Linked DNA regions of Homo sapiens. Each later gene encodes a partner of the first gene's protein in a complex. Each region holds a gene or a part of one and is shown on either strand. Other genes may lie near its edges. A codon is read from its position in the direction of its gene.

What was found. Proteins that work in one complex are often made in the same cells at the same time.
Region 2: the proteins of NUMA1 (region 1) and GPSM2 are in contact, whole or in part, in a crystal structure (PDB 6HC2), measured with the Homo sapiens proteins. Residues at the interface, in NP_006176.2 of Homo sapiens: Ser1901 (codon at 3,018), Phe1902 (codon at 3,015), Tyr1903 (codon at 3,012), Met1904 (codon at 3,009), Gly1905 (codon at 3,006), Thr1906 (codon at 3,003), Cys1907 (codon at 3,000), Gln1908 (codon at 2,997), Asp1909 (codon at 2,994), Glu1910 (codon at 2,991), Pro1911 (codon at 2,988), Glu1912 (codon at 2,985), Leu1914 (codon at 2,979), Asp1916 (codon at 2,973), Trp1917 (codon at 2,970), Asn1918 (codon at 2,967), Arg1919 (codon at 2,964), Ile1920 (codon at 2,961), Ala1921 (codon at 2,958), Leu1923 (codon at 2,952); in NP_001307967.1 of Homo sapiens: Ala28, Leu29, Glu32, Cys35, Lys36, Phe47, Lys59, Thr60, Ser62, Ala63, Ile64, Ser66, Gln67, Asn70, Ala71, Phe73, Asn110, Lys113, Tyr146, His153, Lys157, Pro164, Gln165, Arg203, Gly206, Asn207, Asn210, Tyr213, Leu214, Arg228.

Annotation. Positions count from the first base shown.
Region 1 is NC_000011.10:72,002,344-72,007,552, forward strand, and holds the end of NUMA1 (nuclear mitotic apparatus protein 1), read right to left. Parts: exon of another isoform or gene 5,093-5,209; coding exon 4,846-5,092; exon of another isoform or gene 3,921-4,845; coding exon 3,692-3,920; exon of another isoform or gene 3,202-3,691; intron 3,027-3,201; coding exon 2,890-3,026; intron 2,474-2,889; coding exon 2,297-2,473; intron 1,999-2,296; coding exon 1,882-1,998; intron 1,757-1,881; coding exon 1,544-1,756; intron 1,196-1,543; coding exon 1,184-1,195; 3' UTR 521-1,183; downstream 1-520. UniProt on the Homo sapiens protein: Microtubule (MT)-binding protein that plays a role in the formation and maintenance of the spindle poles and the alignement and the segregation of chromosomes during mitotic cell division.
Region 2 is NC_000001.11:108,893,969-108,900,998, forward strand, and holds part of GPSM2 (G-protein-signaling modulator 2), read left to right. Parts: intron 1-2,895; coding exon 2,896-3,117; intron 3,118-3,523; coding exon 3,524-3,659; intron 3,660-3,990; coding exon 3,991-4,133; intron 4,134-4,673; coding exon 4,674-4,797; intron 4,798-4,910; coding exon 4,911-5,026; intron 5,027-7,030. UniProt on the Homo sapiens protein: Plays an important role in mitotic spindle pole organization via its interaction with NUMA1. Required for cortical dynein-dynactin complex recruitment during metaphase. Plays a role in metaphase spindle orientation.

The sequences.
Region 1 (5,209 bases):
AAGTCATCCTCTTTCAGCTCTGGCCGCATTCTGCAGACTTCCTATCTTCGTGCTGTATGTTTTTTTTTTCCCCCTTCACTCTAATGGACTGTTCCAGGGAAGGGATGGGGGCAGCAGCTGCTTCGGATCCACACTGTATCTGTGTCATCCCCACATGGGTCCTCATAAAGGATTATTCAATGGAGGCATCCTGACATCTGTTCATTTAGGCTTCAGTTCCACTCCCAGGAACTTTGCCTGTCCCACGAGGGAGTATGGGAGAGAGGGACTGCCACACAGAAGCTGAAGACAACACCTGCTTCAGGGGAACACAGGCGCTTGAAAAAGAAAAGAGAGAACAGCCCATAATGCTCCCCGGGAGCAGAGGCCACTAATGGAGAGTGGGAAGAGCCTGGAAAGATGTGGCCTCAGGAAAAGGGATGAGAGAAAGGAGGTGGTATGGAAGACTCAGCAGGAACAAGGTAGGCTTCAAAGAGCCTATATTCCTCTTTTTCCCACACCGATCAAGTCAACTCAGTACTCACGGGAGAAAAATAGACTTTATTTACAAGTAATAACATTTAGAAAAGATCCATCCCCGGCCCTTAAAAACCTTCCCATCACTCCAAATCCCACCCCAGTGCAAGTCTGGGGAAGGTAGGGTGTGAGCTGCTGCTGAAGGCTGTCCCCCAACCCCACTCCTGAGACATAGGGCCCATCCGTCCTGGGAAAGAGCATCCTCTGGCAGGTGCTCCCACCAGGTCAGACCCAGTCCTGGACTTCAAGAGTGAGGGCCCCTGCTGGGCCCAGCCACCAGGACAGCAGGAACCAGGGCCTACTCCTCTTATGGTCCCTTCTAGATCCAGAGGCTAAGAGGAAGACTGGCCAGGCCCAAGGACCCAGCCATCAAAACCAGCCTCAAATCTGGTTGTGATGGAGAAGTGACTTTGCTTTAAGAAAAAAGGAGGCAAGGTAGGGAGAGCGCCCACACTGTCCATGCTCCAGGCCCCCTGGGCCAGCTCCGAGAAGGCGCCAGTGAAGGACCAGGGACCAGGCCAGGGTGCGGGCAGGCATCACTGTCTCTAGGGGTTTGGCTACTGTTGGCCTGGGAGCTGAGAGAAGGCACTGAGAGGGACAGTAGGCGGAGGACCAGGTGAGGTCAGCATCGGGGACACAGGTGGGGCCACTCACTGGTACTGGCCCTTTAGTGCTTTGCCTGAAAGAGACACAGTCACATGGCCAGATGAGAACTTGCGATACTAGCCTGCACCCACTGGCTGGGAAGATCTCTTCCTGCTCCCACGCCCCTGTCTGGATCCCCTCCCTTGTGAGCCCCAGGGTTATCAGTTGCTGGCTGTGCCTGAGCAGCTCTGGGTGCTCTCCATGAGAATGGGGCCATCTGTCTTCTCTCCTTGGAGAGGAGCTACCAGGACAGGGACACCTCTTACCCCACACCCTCCAGCAGCCTGGCGTGGCCCCATCTTGGATGCTACTTGGTGGGGCGGTCTGGGGGGTGCCCATGCTCTCATCGGGTTTCCCTCCCCCATCCTGCCAGTGCCTCTACCTTGCCCTTGGCTCGAGGGGTGGCACCAATGGCGGCAGCAGTGGCGGCGCTGGCTGTGGTGGTGGCAATGCGCGGAGAACGGCGGGTTCCACTGCGAGTGTTGGGGGAAGCCTTGGACAGGGCCTTCTTTGAGGCTCCCCGCCGCAGAAGGCTGTTCCCTAGCTTCTTGGGTGTGTTGAGGATGCTGAAGGCCATCGACTGGCGCCGGTCAGCCTGCAAGGAAGGGCTGTCAGACCGGGAGACCCAATGCTGCCTTCCCAGGCCAGCGTGCTGTGCCACGCTCTATCAGCAAGGTCCCGCCAGGGCGTCGCTTCATCCCCCTTCAGCCCCAGCCTCACCTGTTTAGTAGAAGCTGGAGCTGCTTTCTTCTGGGCCTCAGTAGTGCTCTGTTTGCGCCCTTCATGTCGGTCTCGGGGAGTCATGGGGCGTGGGAAACAGCTGGTGGCCTTCTTAGACTATGGAGAAGAGGACAGTTAGGCAGACAGTAGCAAGAGGAGTCACATCTGAAGCCAGGTGTCTTGTCCTCTCAGAGCTGAGTGGACCTTGTAAGTCAACGTGCAACCTGCTCCCCTTCCCAACTCTGGGCCAGATCCTTCCCTTCCCAACAGTTCCCATCCATGGGTCAGGCCCTTGGAGAGAGGGAAAGAGAGGGGGAAGTGAGGGAAGGAGAGAGAAGGCTCCCTTTAGTCCTTGGTGAGCTGGGCCTGACCTGAGCACAGTGCTGGAGTAACACCCAGGAGCCACCGCGCCTACCTCAGGAGTTCCAGGGCCCTGGTGGGGCTCTAGGGAGACCCGTTTGCGCTGCTGCCGGGTGGTGATGCCAGTGCCCTCGGCTATCTGGATTGGCTGCATGCTGGCTCGGCGCAGGGTCTCTTGGGGGTCTCCAGTTTTCATCTCCTCATCTGTGATGGTGCCCAGGCTCAGGGAAGGCTGCATGGGTGGAAGAGGTGGTCAGTGGACCATAGCTGTATGGAGATGGAGGAGGACCTGGGGCTGTCCCAGAACTCTACACTCGCCCGACACTTATGGTCGGGACCCTTCCTGCCTCACGAGGTAGAAAGACACAAGGCCTCCTTTCCTGTTCTGCTTTCTACCTAAGCCCTGGGCAAATGGCCACAAGCAGTGCAGTCCTGACCAGATTCCTCTCTGAGCTCCTGCCTACCCCAAGGGACTTCACCCCTGAGTGCCCTCCCAGCTGTCTGTTCCACCTGGAAACATGAGAAGGTCACCCTCCCCCTCCTCGGCCAGTCAGTGATCCAGGGCCCTAGTGCTCAGGCTAGATCAGCAGGTGGGATTCCAAGGGAGGGCAGGGATGGGAGGCCCTGCACAGTGACCCCAGGCCTCACCCTGGACTCCAGGGGATAGCAGGTCTTCAGATGTGGGGGGCACACTCGATTGCGCTGCTGCAGCTCTGCAATGCGGTTCCAGTCATCCAGCTGCTCAGGCTCATCCTGGCAAGTGCCCATGTAGAAGCTGTTCCTTCCTGTGGAAGGCAGGGAAGTGGGAACAAATGAGCCTGGAGTCGGCAGGTCACCTCCTGGCCCTGGCATCTTGCCAGCCTTTGCTGCCACCTACCCCATAAACTTGAAGCCCAGCACACCAGTCTGATTCAGTGCCGCAGGTGCAGGAGTACGGCACACAGACTATTTCTATCCTAGGGGCTTGCTCACCACCTTCTCCCTGGAGAGGGCAGAAGAGGTCACACGCAGAGACTGCTACTACATCTTACTCACCTGCCAAGGCTTGGTGGCCAACACCCAGAGGAACAAATTAAGGACCGGGAATTAATTCCCAGGGGCTCCCTGGTGCCCAAAGGACAAGAGCTTCCAAGAAGAGTCTGGCCAGCCTGGCCTTTCCAGCAGCCCATCACCGCCTGAGAAGGGCATGGAGGACTCCCCACAGCTAAGTGTCACAATTGTGCTGGGAATCCCGGGCCCTTAACTCTGGCTAAGAGTGCCCCCAACACAGCCAGCCCCTAGATGGGCAGGTAAGGAAGGCCCTGAGGCTGCAGGAAGGAGGGGCAGGTGGAGCTGGATGGTAGCAAGGAGGCCAGCCTTGGATTTTTAAAAAGCTTTCCTCTTTTCCCTGTGCCACGATCCACCTTCCAGTCTAATTTTGGGGTATAGTAAGTCCCTGTAGTCCCCTCACCTGGAGGGGCCCCACTGGACACCCCGGCCTGGGAACGACGAGCAGAACTGCGAGTGGTGGGGCGGTAGCCAGGCAAGCTGAGCAGGGCTGAGTTGCCATAATCGGGAGAACCCAGGCGAGCTAGAGACTGAGTAGAGGAGGTGGCTCGCAGGCTAGCCTGGGAAGCAGGAGCAGACCGCGTGCTGTAGAACGATGAGTTGGCGCTGTCTGGCTCTTCCACATCTAGCTTCTGGAAGACAGAGTGAATCTGTTGCAGTGTACAGTCCCTGGCACTGTACAGAAGCTTCCCATTCCCTTCCGAAGCCCTCAGATCCCACGGCACATCCATGTATTCCCAACTGCTTTGCAAAGGTCCTTAAAGTGTGTGTCTGCAAGAAATGGGCCTTGTCGACAGAAGCCCTCACAAGGTGGTGCTGATGTTGTCAAGACTCTTCTACGCATTTTTTTCATGGAGTCTATTCATAATGCTTTGAGGTAGGGAATGCAGAGTGTTTATCGGCCCATTTTGGAGATGAAGTGCAAAGAAATAAAGTGACTAGCCCCAAATCACACTGCTAGGAAGTATCAGAGCTGGGGCTAGGCCCCATGTCTCCTGACTAGTCAGGCTCATCCCACAGCCTCTGCTGTCCCTCAGTCCAAACTTCCAGGGCCCTTACCATGTTCCAGAACTTCCCCAACTTCTTGGTAGCAGGGGGCACCCTAAACACACAGGTCCCCCCTGCTGTACCAGGGGCCCCTCTCCCCTCCTCCCAAACCTCCCCTTCAAGATGTGGAAACAAAGGCAAGGGCCTGTAGCCTGTCAGGCAGTCCACTGGGCAGCAACAATGCCTCTCAGCTGCATGGGGCATGCTGGGAGGCACAGGATGGGCTGCAGCTTCGCCACGTTCTCTCCCTTCACCCTGCACAGGCTCAGTGCTACGCATGGAGAGAATGCTAGCCTTAGTCAGGAGGCAGGGATCTAATCCTAGCCCTGCCTTTTTCTTCAGAAGTGCCCTTAACCAAGTCACTGCCCTTTTTAAGACCTCTCAGCTTTCCCACTGTAACATGGACTGGCTGCTCATCCCTCCCTGCTCCTGACTGAGTGCCCAGTGCAAAGATGCCCTTGAGAGGAAGTGGGAATTGCTGCCCTGCAGCCCCTGTCCCAGCAGCCTGACCTTGGTCATGGTGATGTTGATGATCTGCGTGGTGCGCCGACGAGCGGAGCGGGTCTTACGACCCGAGTCCAGGAAGACGTCTCCCAGGGAGTCCAGGCTGCTCTCCAGGGGGGCCTGACTCCGAGCAGGGATGGGAGTGAAGTAGAGACTCTCCAGGGATTCTACCTTGGGGGGCAGGCGCTGGGAGATAGGTGAGGCTGGTTCTCCAGGGACGCTGGTGCCGTCTGGCTGGGTACGAGGCAGCTTGCTATGGAAAGGAAACCTGCTGAGGTACAGTCCTTCACGCTAGAAGGCATTTTGTCCAGCCCTTTTTGAAAGTGACCATTTCCCATCCTTACTACAAGCAGATGAGGTCAAGCAGCCC
Region 2 (7,030 bases), on another chromosome or scaffold:
TGCTTGAACCCAGGAGGCGGAGGTTGCAGTGAGCCATTGCGCTCCAGCCTGGGTGACAGAGTGAGACTCCATCTCAAGAAAAAAAAAATTACATTTTTATATATCTTTTGTTGATTTATTTATCTTTATACATAGAATATGACAATAACTTCATAAAATCTTAAACAGATATACTCAATTTTTTCTTTTATGAAATATCTCATTTTCAGAAATACAATTCTAAAGGGCAGTTTTCATTTTTGGAAGGCAAAAATAGGCTTTATTAATTGTGAAGTGACATATAAAGAAACATAAATATAGCTGTTTAAGGTTTCTGATTTAACTGCTTATCTTACTATGTATTTTAGATCTTCTCTCCTGTATCTAATTGGCTTGTAGTCTAATATTGTAGCAAAATGTTGGAGGTTTACCTGCATTATTTTGCATAGATCCATAAAGTGAAGATGGGGCCAGCCATGGTGGCTCACACCTGTAATCCCAGCACTTTGGGAGGCCAAGATGGGTGGATTGCTTGAGGTCAGGAGATTGAGACCAGCCTGGCCAACATGGCAAAACCCTGTCTCTACTAAAATTACAAAAATTAGCCAGGCATGATGGCACATGACTGTAATCCCAGCTGCTCAGGAGACTGAGGCACGAGAATCACTTGAACCCAGGAGGCAGAGGTTGCAGTTAGCCAAGATTGTACTGCTGCACTCCAGCCTGAGTGACAGTGAGAGACTGTGTCTCAAAAAAAAAGTGAAGATGAGCAAGCAGTAGCCATTGGCTAAGTCATTTGAATTCTTAAAAAAAAAAAAGATACCTAGATAGAAAACTTGAAAATTACCTATTGGAATTGGCTACATATATCTGCTTGTTCTAAACCAGAAGTCTGCTTTGAACCTTTACAATTGGCTCAGTTTATCTTTGTCCAGGCTTTTAGCTTCATCAGGTACATTTTCTACTTTACAATCCCATTTTAATTTATGGCTCTAAGGACCCTTGAAATTTTGCAGACTGAAAAACAGCACTCACAAAAACATGTTAATTGATCTACCACTAGATATACAGAGTATAATCATATTTGAATGATATTAGGGTGGGTGGTGGTTTAATTCACATTTCTTATAAAAGCACTGATTCTCAACCCTAACTTGTACTTTAGAATTACCTGGGGCTTTAAAAAAATACAGGTGGCCAGACATCACCCAGAGGGTGGAGTTCAGCGTTGGGAGTTTTAGAAAGTGCTCCAGGTGAGCTCTGCTGTTGTACAGCCAGCATTAAGAACAACTGCTCTATTGGAGTGGCTCAAAGCTCATTCTAGTAAGGAGTAACTTAATGCTGTTCCAAAAATTAAAACATTTGATGAGCTTAATCAGAGCTTCTCAAAGAGTGATATGTATGCCACTGGTGGTACATAAGGTAACTTTACTCACTTTTAGATTTTAATAATTTCATATTTGTTTAATGTGTATTAGAACGGGGTTCCCAACCCCTGGGCCACAGACCAGTACTGTTGTAGCCTGTTAGGAGGTAAGCTGCAGGTGGGCAGGACGAGTGAGCATTTTCACCTGAGCTCCGCCTCCTGTCAGATCAGCAGTACCATTAGATTCTCATAGGAGTGCAAACCCTATTGTGAACTGCACATTCGAGGGATCCAGATTGCACATTCCTTATGAGAGTTTAATGCCTGATGATCTGTCACTGTCTCCAGTCACACCCAGAGGAGACCATCTAGTTGCAGGAAAACAAGCTCAGGGCTCCCACTGATTGTACATTATGGTGAATGTATAGTAACAAGAGGAATAAAGTACACAATAAATGTAATGCACTTGAATCATCCCAAAACAATCCCCTGCCACCCGTCCATGGAAAAATTGTCTTCCACAAAACCGGCCCCTGGTGCCAAAAAGATTGGAGACCGTTGTATTAGAATATACATATAAGTATCGTATCAAATTCACAGTTTCATGAGTACTGCTTTGGATGAAGCTCCATTTTTTTAAAATGATAAGTTAAAGATAGTGTGCCAATTTAAAGGAAATTTGCCAAATTACAGAAATAATTAAACGAATAGGTAGTTCCTACATATGGCAGAAATCATGAAGATGCTGAAGAAACACAATGGCAACTTTGGTGAAGGGCACCCTCTAAAATTTAGGATTTGAATCCAAAGTATCAGTGTTTTTTTCTCCCAGATATGTTTACAGTGACTTAATCCTTCTTTTTCAATTCAGGGACAGACTTTCAAAATTAGTATTTCTGCAAATTTTTGAATCATTGTTTTCTAACTTAGTTTCTTGACACCTAGTTCTCTTGTGAAAATGTGTCTTACAGATCAAGAATATTTTGTTCCTCTATTTTTCTAGGGTATAAGTGGACATGTGGTGGTAAGAAGAGGAAGGAGAGTGAGTGTGTGTTGTGTGTGTATGAGAGAGAGAGCGAGGGATGGATGGCTGGATGGTCAGAGGGGCTGATGAACAGGTGACTAGATTACTTGGATACCTGGGTAGAGAACAATATTAATAATTGTAGGGCCTCACTTTCCTACATACTCATCTTCTCAGACTCTAAGGAAGTCCAGAGGTCTGTTACAACTCAGAATTGTTTGGGAAATACTGCTTTAGGCTCTTTCACTAGTAACGTGGATTGCTCTGGGCCAATTAAAATGAGCTCCACATAAAGATATTTAGCTATCCTGACCTCTCTGAGCAGGCTCAGAGAAATTCGAATAGGCAAATTACCTCTTGCTACAAATAACTGCTTACTGTTTTATCAGGAATGTATATAAACTTCAGTTATAGAGGCAGCTGCCCTGAACAAGAGTAGCCGCTTAAATTATATTACGGGAAGTTAAAAATACTGTGATGCAGCTGTAATGTTATGTTTAAATGTCTGTCCTGTATAATTTTGTAGAATGGAAGCTTCTTGCCTAGAGCTGGCCTTGGAAGGGGAACGTCTATGTAAATCAGGAGACTGCCGCGCTGGCGTGTCATTCTTTGAAGCTGCAGTTCAAGTTGGAACTGAAGACCTAAAAACACTTAGCGCTATTTACAGCCAGTTGGGCAATGCTTATTTCTATTTGCATGATTATGCCAAAGCATTAGAATATCACCATCATGATTTAACCCTTGCAAGGTAATTAATTTAAGCTTTTAAATATTCTTCCTTCTGAAATTAGCTATTACTTTAAAAAATATTTCTATTCAATTAACAAAAACTAACTTAATACATTTAATGAGTTCTACTTCAGTAACATCGCTTTTCAAAACTAACCTTTAGGCTGAACACAGTTTAATTGAATGAATAGTAGTGAATTGACCCTAGAGTTTAATTAAATGGATGAAAACTAATTACATTCAAATCCAGAAATGTAAGTTTTAAATATTTATTTAAAGTAGGTTTCAAAGCCAATGGGTTTTTCTTACCTTAAGCATGTCAGTTTGTCCTCTTGGAAAACTGTACTCTGGCTACTTTATATTTTAACACCATTTGTATTTTAATACCATTTGGTTTTTTGTTTTTTGTTTTTTGTTTTTTTCAGGACTATTGGAGACCAGCTGGGGGAAGCGAAAGCTAGTGGTAATCTGGGAAACACCTTAAAAGTTCTTGGGAATTTTGACGAAGCCATAGTTTGTTGTCAGCGACACCTAGATATTTCCAGAGAGCTTAATGACAAGGTAATACCGCAGCATTAGATGGTAGGCCTAATATTTTCATTCAAAGGGCTTTGCATTTTAATACTATTTAATTATTCTATAGTTTATTTTAAAATTAATACCAAAAAAGAAAACATTTATAGACTAATAGAAGTAAAAGAAAAAAAATTTAATGGAGAAAAAGAAGGAAATAGTAAGAGGTCTTTCATAAGTAATTATTTGATTGGTTCTGTATGGAGAGCCAATATAAAAATTTTTTTCCCTTGTCCGTAATACTAAGGATATTACAAATATATATGATAAACCTGACCTCTGTTTTCAAAATGTAAACTTTGCTGATGTCTTCATTTAGGTGGGAGAAGCAAGAGCACTTTACAATCTTGGGAATGTGTATCATGCCAAAGGGAAAAGTTTTGGTTGCCCTGGTCCCCAGGATGTAGGAGAATTTCCAGAAGAAGTGAGAGATGCTCTGCAGGCAGCCGTGGATTTTTATGAGTGAGTAGGGGCTGATATGGGCAGTCATGTAGGCCCATCTAAGCCGTGGATCTGCTGTACGTTCTTTATTCAGTAGTAAGTTTTTAAGTTTGGCAAAGATTTTAAAGTTATGAACTAGCAAAATCATCAATTCAGTTGCTTAAATGTTACAGTGTTATATTAGTAGTAATCTGCAGCTTTCATTTAAGTTGCAGACCAGTGCCACTTAGTGGCAAAAGCAAGAAATGTCAATGGTTGGTCTGTTATTTAGAGTAATTTAGTCTTTTACCAATAGAATTTCATAGAACTACTTAACTATAGGGGTTCCAAGATTAACTCTGTGCTTGACCCTGGGCAGAAACCTATCTGAATAGTTTAATAAAGTGTTCCCAGCTATTTCCTATAATTGCTCTTCATCATAGATGTCATCCTTAAAATGTTGCACATTATGGCTGTAAGCTTCCCTACATTTTTTTCTGATAAAAAGAATTAGATATGTAAATCACATACATAAAATTGTTCTGCAAACTTATTTTTTCATCACTTTTTGCGATCCCTTAGGGAAAACCTATCATTAGTGACTGCTTTGGGTGACCGAGCGGCACAAGGACGTGCCTTTGGAAATCTTGGAAACACACATTACCTCCTTGGCAACTTCAGGGATGCAGTTATAGCTCATGAGCAGGTACAGTGGAAAGCCTTGGAGCCAGATCATTTCCTCCATCAAAGTTCTGAACAGTGATTAGATCATTCTTCAGTTTTATTTTATCTACATCTAATTAAAATTGTTTGTTTCAGCGTCTCCTTATTGCAAAAGAATTTGGAGATAAAGCAGCTGAAAGAAGAGCATATAGCAACCTTGGAAATGCATATATATTTCTTGGTGAATTTGAAACTGCCTCGGAATACTACAAGTTAGTCTAATATTTCTGTAGATAAATGTAAAATGAATACTCAGTCCCATTAATTCATAGGCTTTAGGTTTAAAATCTGATTGTAGCAGAACTTTTGGCATCTAAGCCTCAATTTCCTTATCTGTAACAGAATATATCAATACTTCATTTTGGGGAATGCTGTGAGGATTGAATGAAATAATATACTAAACACAGTATCTGGTACACAGTGCTCAATAAATATTATTGTACATAAGATTTAATAGCAGCAGTATGACCCCTTTATAATATTGGTTTTTATCTTTAAAAGTAATTGTTTTTAAATGAAGTTTTCAACCTTTAATATCTTTTAAACCTGTTTAGCATATGTGGTGTATATTGTGTATATGCTTTATTTCACTCAGTTATGGGTTAGAAGAGAGGCCAAAAGAAAGCCTTGTAACAAAAATATTTATAGTCTATACCAGTGATCACTGAATTTTTTTCTCTACCTTCCCACCCTCTTATTGAGCAGTTCTCCCTTTACCCTCTTTCTGCCTATATTTGACTGTCACTGTAAGCTGAGTCCCCCATTCACTTACCTGAAGCATTTACAATCCCAGCTTCTTCTGTGGCAGGATCTCTCTTATCAGTAGATTTGAGACATAGATGATAGAAAGTTTAGACAGCTTCAAGTTGCCTGATCTGTGCTTTCTAGATTGAGTTTTCCCTAGTTAGTGGGGATTGAAGCCTCTTACAGATTTTGGGTAGAAGGCAGTTTGACTAAACCGAAGACACAGTGATTGATTTGTATTTTGTTAAAGAAGCCAATATGAGACAGTTCTGGATAATTTGTCATCTTCATAAAAAAGGTAAAATTGTTTTAGGCCTATCTAAAAAAATTAAATAGCATTCCACTTTGCTTTAAACATCAACTAATGGTTAATATTTGTTGGTTAGGTTAGTTAGATATGAAATAGCCTCCCAAATAAAATATATCACTGTGTACTATGTGAAGGAGTATATATTTTGATTTTAAATATAAAAATTTCCTATATTTAAAGCCAAGGGATATAGAGAAGTCTTAATTATTAAATGGTGTATCTGTGTTAAATACTGAAAGGTTCTATTATAAAATGGATAGTGGCTATTTGACTAAAGAAGCATGAATATAAAGTAATGAAACTTAGTTTTTTTCCTCCCAATAAGCAGGCTAGAACTCAGAACTTTATATATATTCCAAGTCGTTGGTTAGAAATATTTTTAGAACTCTTCTTTAGATTTTTTTTTTTTTTTTTTTTTTAAATACGGAGTTTTGCTCTTGTCGCCCAGGCTGGAGTGCAATGGCACAATCTTGGTGCACTGCAACCTCGGCCTCCCCGGTTCAAGCGATTCTCCTGCCTCAGCTTCTGAGCAGCTGGGATTACAGGTGTCTGCCACCACGCCCAGCTAATTTTTGTATTTTTAGTAGAGACGGGGTTTCGCCATGTTGGCCAGGCTAGTCTGGGACTCCTGACCTCAAGTGATCCGCCCACCTCAGCCTCCCAAAGTGCTGGGATTACAGGCGTGAACCACCACACCCAGCCTGGAATTGTTATCAGGGCCAAACAAGAAGGCTAACAATGTAGATCCATATCCTTCCGGATACAAAGCAGTAGTTTGGTAAACCTATGTTAGTAATTGAATTTGGTTCCAGAAAGATTTCTGATCATTTACAAATCAACTGTACCATCAAAGAATAATGGTATGCCAGAAAGCATTATGCCACAGGATCTGAAAGCAATTCCAAAAGTCTTTCAAAAATATTTGAAAAGACAGGCAACATTAGAATAAGTAGGTAGCCTCCCAAGGTGACAGATTTGAAGGTATCATCATTAAATATGTAACTTTAGATTTGTTTGCTTAAAAAAAGCTATCACGTTACCGCATAGTAATTTGTCATATAGTTATAAGTGATATGAAGTAATTATACTATTTGACAGAAATAATGGGAGGGTCATTTAAATTACTGAATCCAAAAGCATCTATAGGTTTAAGCACTGATAA